Linked DNA regions of Homo sapiens. The protein of the gene in region 1 purifies or fractionates together with the protein of each later gene. This does not show direct contact. Each region holds a gene or a part of one and is shown in the gene's direction. Other genes may lie near its edges.

Region 1 (3,500 bases):
ACAGGTAGTAGCAATGCACAATGGCTAGCTGCATGGGAAGGCTAAATGGGTGGGTGATGGAGGGCTGGATGGATGGATAAATGGTTCATTCAATGGTCTTATGAGAGCTGAACTAGAAGGGTTTGGGAATTGACTCCAGACTCCCCAGGTGCCTTCTGGTGGGGAATCATTCATAGCATCCTCAGCCAGGAGGGGAGGGCAGCTGGAGATCTGGATATGCCCTCCCTGGCCTCCGGGCTGATGGTGAATCATCCAGGACAAACAATGCACAGTCCTTTCACCAGGTTCTCCAAGGTGAGGGTGTCACTGCTCATCCCAGATGCCCATTTTGGGGTCTTACCACTTGCGTGATCAAGCAGCTCTTTCCAACATCCAACAAAACACACCCTTGTGCTGACCTGAAAGCTATTTCTACTTATTCAGTCAACAGTGAGTAACATGCAAGCTGCATCTCAGCCATTAAACAAACAAGCACCTTTTATTCATACTGGTTGAAGAGACAATCTTGATGCAAGGCAGGGTTTGGACCTAGCAGTTGACAGCTAAATCCCAGTTGTGATATTTACTTCCAAGTGATCTTGAACAAGCGACCTAACCTTTCTAGACTTGGGTTTCCTCTACTGCCAAATGCAGATATAATACCTTTCTCTTAGGTAATGGGATCATATAGTTTGTTGCTCAGTCAGGACAATATTGAGAGTGAAAAGGGGGTGCTATTAATAACTACATAAGACCGCAACCAGCATGGCGAAACCCTGTCTCTACTAAAAATACAAAAATTAGCCAGGTGTGGTGACAGGCACCTGTAATCCTAGCTGCTCAGGAGGTTGAGGCAGGAGAACTGCTTGAAAGCGGGAGGCAGAGGTTGCAGTGAGCTGAGATGGTGCCATTGCACTCCAGCCTGGGTGACAAGAGCGAAACTCCATCTCAAAATAATAATAATAATAATAATAATTACGTAAGACAACAGACCTCAACTGGGGCCAACCAGGATGTATGGTCCCCTACTCATAGAGCTATTAAGAGCCAATGAGATAGAGTACAGCTGGGCACCCAAATTCACAACAAACGACAGCCATTATTAGCAATACTACTGGTCACCTGATCAGCTGGGCCTTTTCCTTCATCTGGATCCCTCCCACATCTTGGATTACCAACTGGTTTGGATACTTCCCTACCAGCACACCATACATTTCAACAGCTTAGTAGGAACACCTGCTAGCTAATGTTGATGTTTTCATCTGTCTTCTGTCCTGATGATAGTTTCACAAACTTGATTCATGCTCAGGTCCACCAGACTCACTCAAGCACAGCTCAGGCTTCTAGCTTCCCAGAACCCCGACGTCAGGGGCCAGCTGGCAGTTCCAGATTCCCTGACTGCCTTGGCAGAGGCCCGCTTCTCAGGCCTCCTGCAGTGCTGGGATGCCTCTTATGGCGTGGACCCATTATTGGCCTTCATCTGTGATCACAGACCAATGGGCAGTGCTGACCAGAGGACGGGTGGTGAGGGGGTGGTTCTGTAAGTCCTCCAGGCAGGACTACAACCTGGACTGATGATGAATCAACTCCTGAGATCCGGATTTAATTTGGAGGCTTCCCTGGGATCTGCAGGCCTAATGACGGCAAGAGCACTCCTGTCGTCGTCCTGCCTAGAGGGTCAGAGAACAACCTCTTTTGGGTTTCCAGTCACTTTGGCACTTTGGTTTCTCTTTATTCACAGTATGGTATCTTTGGGGGTTATTTTGGGATCTGTTAGTGGCTCTACTACTTATTAATTTGTGATTTGGGCAAATGACTCACGATCCTCAAATCTCAATAGTTTCCTCAACTGCAAATAGGGATAAATGTCAGCTTTGCTGTTAGCCTTAAAAGTATCTTTGTGGGCATCAGAAAATTGCTACAATATAAATATAAAAAACATAAAGACTATGAATGTGAGTTGTGTCCCCTAGAGTAGCACAGTGCTCAAGTGGGGCCACCATGCATGGCGGCCCTCAAATAACAGGCCGCCTTCCGAGGGCTGTTGGGAAGATTAAGTGAGATAATGTATATAAAGTGCTTGAGCCATAGTGACAATTTATTGTTGTTATTCTTTTAATTGCTGGAACTTTTCTCATTTCTAACCTTTGGGGTGAACTCAAAAGAGGATCCCAGGCCGGCAGCTTCTGCTGCAGGGCAGAACACACAGCTCCATCTGATGAAAATGACAGCTCTTCCCACAAAGTGGCCCCTTGCTTGGGCTGTGGCACCACAGTGGTGAGAGGGATGCGGACACATGATGTGTGGCCCCACCACATCAGGCCAAGCGGGGACATTCAGAGGCAGCCCACCGGAGACTGGGTGGGACCCAAGCCCTGGAGAGGCTGCCTCCCAGTGTACAAAGGCTGTCACGTGGCACAGTCACACCAGCCTCACTTGTGGGGAGGGAAAACCCATGCGTGATGGAAACTCCTCACAATACAATGTGGAAAAGCAATTTTAAGAATCGTTTTTATTTTAATTCTGAAGCCAAGGAAAACAGTTGGATTTGCTTTTCTTTGTTGGACACAGGAAAAAAGTGAGGAGCATCACTTTGATTGGAGTTGAGTTCTTCTTCAGTCCTAAGATGGCTGGAATGCCGGGGTGGGGGTGGGGGGTGTTACTTCTCTTGAGATACAATGAGTTGAATAAATATCAAGAGAGCAAAAGTAAACAAACTTATTACTGCCCATTAAGAGCCGCCAAACTGGCAAAAAACTGCTGGGGGGAGGGGAGGAATTGGGGTTGGAGTCTTGGACTCCAAGGAAAATAAATGACTCTGAGGCTCAAAGAGAAGCCCAAGGAGCATGGCCCTTGGTATCAGGTTGACCCAAGTCCTAGGCTCAGTCACCTTTGGCTGTTATCTGCCGTGTGTTCCTGGGCAAATCACTGAGCCTGTTTGGGTTGCAATGTCTCCGTTGATAAAACAGGGGTGAATAACAACCCACCGGATTACCTGGGACAATGTATGTCAGGCGCCCAGCACAGTGCCCTGTTCCTTCCCTTCCTTCCTGTAACCCAATCAGTTCTGAGTCACCCCCACTAAGCCTAGGCCCCACAGAGGTGTAACAGTAGGACTCAGAATCAATGTAGTTACAAGAGGTCCCACTGCTCGCAACATGACCTCAAAGTCAGCTACCCCTACACCTTTTTGAGCTTCAGTTTCCTCAGCCTAGAAATGGGCATAACACTAGTAAGTCACTCTGAGTGTTGGAATGATTAGATGAGAGAATGTTGATGTGAAGGGTCTGGAAGCCCTAAAGCCCTGTGCAAGCATTAGTCAAGGAGATGGTGTGAGTGCTTGGCACACTGCCTGGCCCACACCCAGCATCCTCACTGTTGTTGGTTTTGTTTCAGCTTTGTTGTTCTTGCTATCGTATTGCTAACACATTATTCCAATCTCCCGCTTCTGATGCACTTCCATGCTGCTCACCTAGTGTGCAAGGTGGGTTGGATCATCCCATTTCACAGAAAAGACTCAG
Region 2 (5,088 bases), on another chromosome or scaffold:
GAGGCAGTGGGGACTGATCTTCCCTCATCCAGTCCCTGCTCTGCCACTTACTGGCAGTGGCGTTCCGAGTCTGAAGTGGAGAAATGTCCACCTCTTAGGGTAAGGTGAGAATTAAATGAGATGCTGCAAGTAAAGCAAATCAGTGAGTTGGGCAGCTATCCCTGAATATCCACTGGTCAGGTCAAGAGCCCAAGATCCATGATCTTTGTTTCCTGTGATTGTGAAACTATCATGACATGGAACAATTAAAGGGTGAAGGGAGTCATATAGGCCCCAATGTCTCTTAATTCTGCAGCTTCACATTAAATTGAGCTTGTGATGCCTGTGGTTCTAGGGCAGGCCATCCGCTGACTGCCTAAAATGGGGTTAAGTAAAACACGTGTAATACAGGTAGCTTCATTGTGAGGTGGCTGTAAGGATGACATGATGGTTGGTTGTAAATAAGTAACAGGTATCATTATCATCATATTACTAGTAGCAGTATGAATGATAACAAAACACCACCAGTGTCTGATAGATTCTCAATAGAATCTATCTTTTAAAATATCTTAAACCATTAAAAATTAATCTTAAAATACTAAAAGTATCTTTTAGATATCTTCAAAAATAGAATACAATAGATTGTTTATAGACTGTGGTTATTAGTATTAACTTTTTATGGAGACTGCCAGAATGCCCCTTAAATCTCATAGACACAGGATAATTGGTATTTAGTCATTGTTCAGGGGAAAAATCAAAAAGGACCTGGGCCAGATGCATTATTTGTTTACATAGTTGCATCATGAATCTCCTTTCAAGTAACTTCCTGGCATTTTCAATGTTCCAGCTGAATCAAGCTGTTGAAGTTTCTTAAGGGGAAGGACAAAGCAGCTCTACTTGTACGGTCATTATTGGAAGAAGCATATCTTCAAATGGCTTCAATCTGGGATATTCCTACTTTCCTGTGTTACTATTCTATATGCTACCAATCAATGTATTCTGAAGATATAACCACTCTGTTTCTCTTCCCCTCATGGCCAGCTCTGTAACTCACTCATTTTAGAATGTTCTTACTGCCTCACCTATTTCTAGTATAAGTGCCATTTTTAATAGCATTCACATTCCTCCTCTACGAAACAGCTCCTTTTGCTTCAGACTTAAGTTTCTCTTGCTAGTGGCAATAATAGTTGCGGTTGAAATTTCCATTGTAAACTATACTTTTAGTTCATGGTGCCATTTAAGAACCGTTAGCTCATTCTGTTGAAATAACCAGTGGCTGAGCTGGGGGGAAAAGTTTTATAAAAAGACTATCTGCTCAGCCCAGAGCAAATTCTAGGTTTGGCAACTTGTCAATTATTTGAAAGCCAAACTGATCCCGATGGGAATTTTAAAAACACTAAAACATTCTCTTCTTCTGGGTGGGTCCTCTCCAGCACCTTCAGTCTTCTCTTCCCAGCTGCGTTTTTTTCTATCACTAACCAGAGTGGTAACTGAGGGCAAGGTCTCTTGCTTTTAAGGAAAGTCATTTTCTTGCCCATTCTGTCTTCTATCTCAGCCCCATTTCTTCTCCCCTTTGTTGGCAAGCTCTTCAAACACATGATATCAACGTTTGCTCTTCCTGCTTCTAGCTACCCATTCCCTTCAGAACTCTGGCAAAACAAACTGGCTTCTTTTGAAACTGCCTTCTTAAAGGGCAACGGGATAAAAACAGCTGTGTATTTCATCTTTGCTGTGTGGCAGATAGTGTATTTCATGCCTTAATTCTTATATCTACTGCATGGTCCTTAATTCTTATATCTACTCAACAAAGTAGGACATCCCTATTTTACAAATGAGCAAGCTGAGGTTTAGTGGGATTTGGTATCTTGCCTAAAGTCATACAGCTACTTTGTGGCAGAGCCAGGACTTGAACCCACCTTGTCTGACTCCAGAATCCTGGTACTTTCCACTGTGTTCCTCTCCGAGGATGCTGCAGGCAATGACTTGACTCATCCAGTGGCCATCTCTCAGTGGCTTGATCCTTCTAGACTTACTTAGAGTCTTTCCCACCTAGAAGGTCCCTACCCAGAAGTAGCTCCCATCTCCTAGACCTAATTCTAGCCAGTTTCCTGACTCCCCTCTCTTTCTGATCTACTCTTTATATTATTTCCCGCTAGCCTTCTGGAACTTGCTGTAGTTCCCTATTGCCTGGAACGGAGATTCTTAACTGGGGATCAGAGGGAGGGGAGGGAAATCCTCAGAATAAGCTGAGAAGCTCAGTATTATCAGGGTCTCATCTCTAGAAATCCCAATTCAGCGGGTCCATGAAGGGATCCAGATATTTCAATTTTTTAAACTTTTGGACCTGACTCTATAATCACAGCTTCCCCATAAGGTTGCTGTCAATATTCAAGGCATCTGGTGCAACGATTCAGACATAGTCAATGCCCCAAACGTGGGGGCTATTCTTAGAATTATTATTGTTATGAAGCCAGTGATCAAGTTTCAAACATCTCAGCAGCCATCTCAGAATCCAGCACAGAATCCGGCCACTGACTAAGTCCTTGTTGAGCCTTTCTGCCTACCAGGTTTTATTCACACTTTGAGTTTAGTGTTTTTGTGTTGCATTGAGACATGAGGATTCTTTCCTCTTATCCTCCTCAGCTCAGCAAACCTGGTGGTTAAAGCAGGGGCTCATCTAGTACTTAAGGGGATAGAGGACAGTGATTTTTTTAAATAGGAAAATACTTTTTGAGCATTCTTTTTTTAAAAAAAAAAATAAAAATAGCCCATAGTCAAAAATAGCAGTGTTGGAAAATTGCCAACTATCAGGTAGAACTTCTCTTTATGTCTCTCATTTGAAATTCCTAGAGAGAGTATCTGATTGGCTCAATTAGTCTATGATGTGGCCTCCCTTTGGGTCCCATCAGCTGTGAACAGGTCACATTGTCAACTGCCCACTCATCAGGGCCAGGACAGGGTGATAAATCTGGAAGGGGAAGTTGGGTGCAGATATGAGGTCACTGACATATCTGGTATAGATGTTATGGAGGATCATGAGCCTGGAGGATTTGAGGACAGCGGCCACAGAAACCTGACACCAGAGAAGAACATATGTCTAAGAAAACCAGAAGGGGTGTGGACCCCGGGAACTGGTTAACTGACCCTCTACAAGGGTCCCTCTGCAAGGATTTCCTACAAGGGTACCCAAGAGGCAGGGTGGGGAAGGAGACACAGCTGTGGCCCTACCTACAGGGAGTAAGTTTAGGTTCCCTCCATCCCCTGCCCCTACCACCACCAACAACAGGTCCTGCCACAAGGACTTAAGAGCAAATAGTGCATTTGGGATGTGCTCCCAGAAAACACTAGCAGGAAGTGGGAAAGTGTGATGAAAGAAAAGAAAGACAATCAACGGTATGCCTGCAAGCAGGTTACTGCTGCGGGCATCTAGGGCTCCATCCCACTGGAGGCCTTAGAGGGAGACTACGTAGATTCTACATGCTTTAGAATTGTCTAGCGAAGGGAGAAGCTAGACTGTTTACCTCCATAGCCTGACTTTCATTGCTAGGATGTTAACTCCCTAGCACTTGGGGCCTCTGCAGACTGAGCATACTTTGGTGACCAGAGAATGCCCTTAGAGAGAGACAGAGTTGGTTGTTGGCATGTATGGGAACTGGATACAGGTGACCTCCAGATTAGGCCACCAGGAGATGGGCAGGGCATCAACAGCGTTTACACAGGGAGCAAGACTATCTAGTGGAAACATGTTCAAATCCCAGCTCCACCCTTTCCTGGGACTCTGGGGAATTTATCTAGTCTTCCTGAGCCTCAGTTTCCCTATTTGTAATATGAGGACATTAACACCCACCTCCCAGAGAGATTGTGAAATTTCAGTGCTGTAATATATGTAAAACGTTTAGTATAATATCTTATCATAGTGAGTACTCAATTAATAGCACCTATCATCATCATCATTCTTTGTAATTGCAGAAGAGGAAAAGAGATTTTTTTTTTCTAATAGACTCCCATTTGTAACAAGAGAAAATAATTTTGCTCATTAAATTCATCGATTTAATAGATGGAGGCAGAAGAAGCTGCTGCTAAAGCATCATCAGAAGTGAACCTGGCAAACTTACCTCCCAGCTATCACAATGAGACCAACACAGACACGAAGGTTGGAAATAATACCATCCATGTGCACCGAGAAATTCACAAGGTAAGTCATGGCCAGCACTTCCTCCTTTCTATAGCGTCCAGTCCCATCAGAGAACTAAGGTTTTTTTGTTTTTGTTTTTTCATATGTGATATACAAGCCCAAACTACAATTGAGAATCATAAAATACGGATTGAAAACCAGAAGGAGTAATGTTACTGTTGAAAGTGGAGAGACAATGTATCAGGATCCTAAACTGCTTTTGCATTTAAGCAATATATTTAACCCTAGGCTTCCTGCCAGTCCAGTTGCAAAGGAATGTCCAGGGATTATCATTTGAAAAAAAGAAAGCAAATGGATGTCTAAAAAGACCCTTTCCTAGCATTGAATTTGTGGAATTGATCTATCTCATAGGTTTTTATGTATGTCTCAGTAGGGATTGAACTAGAGACCACGTTATGGTGAATTGACCCTCACTTTTTTTTAGGAGGAATGTAAATATGATATACCCCATTTCCAAAAGAGAAACCCTCTATTGCTACAAAATTAAACATTCATTTGCTGGTTGTGCGTTCAAAATTCTCTGGCAGATTTTTCCCCAAACTACCACCTGTCTGAGTGCCTCTTGGTCTAACATCATGCATGAAGAACAACCAGGTTCATTCCCATTCTGACCTGATGAAGAAAGCTCTGCGAATCTCAAGGAACATAGCACTAGCTTGCCCCTGGTGTGCAATGTCTCTGACATGATTTGGCAGGACTCTGAGAGCAAACTGCCTAAGACTGTGTGCTGTGCAGATATTCAGGGTCGTTGTGAGCATCCCGTTGTGAATATCAAGGAGCCTGCCCCCTCAGCTCATCTCAACTCCTGTATGCAAGGGCACAGCGGCTTCACAAAAGAGCCTCACTTTTATTCAAGTGCGCAGGTAATTACTTGGTTGAAACAATAGTGTTTCTGTGCCACAGAGCACAGGGGA

What was found. Proteins that work in one complex are often made in the same cells at the same time.
Region 2: the proteins of ANGPTL2 (region 1) and DKK3 purify together in Homo sapiens (co-immunoprecipitation; one large-scale study listed by IntAct). This does not show direct contact.

Annotation. Positions count from the first base shown.
Region 1 is NC_000009.12:127,112,636-127,116,135, reverse strand, and holds part of ANGPTL2 (angiopoietin-related protein 2 precursor), read left to right. Parts: intron 1-3,500. UniProt on the Homo sapiens protein: Induces sprouting in endothelial cells through an autocrine and paracrine action.
Region 2 is NC_000011.10:12,001,386-12,006,473, reverse strand, and holds part of DKK3 (dickkopf-related protein 3 isoform 1 precursor), read left to right. Parts: intron 1-4,036; coding exon 4,037-4,174; intron 4,175-5,088. UniProt on the Homo sapiens protein: Antagonizes canonical Wnt signaling by inhibiting LRP5/6 interaction with Wnt and by forming a ternary complex with the transmembrane protein KREMEN that promotes internalization of LRP5/6.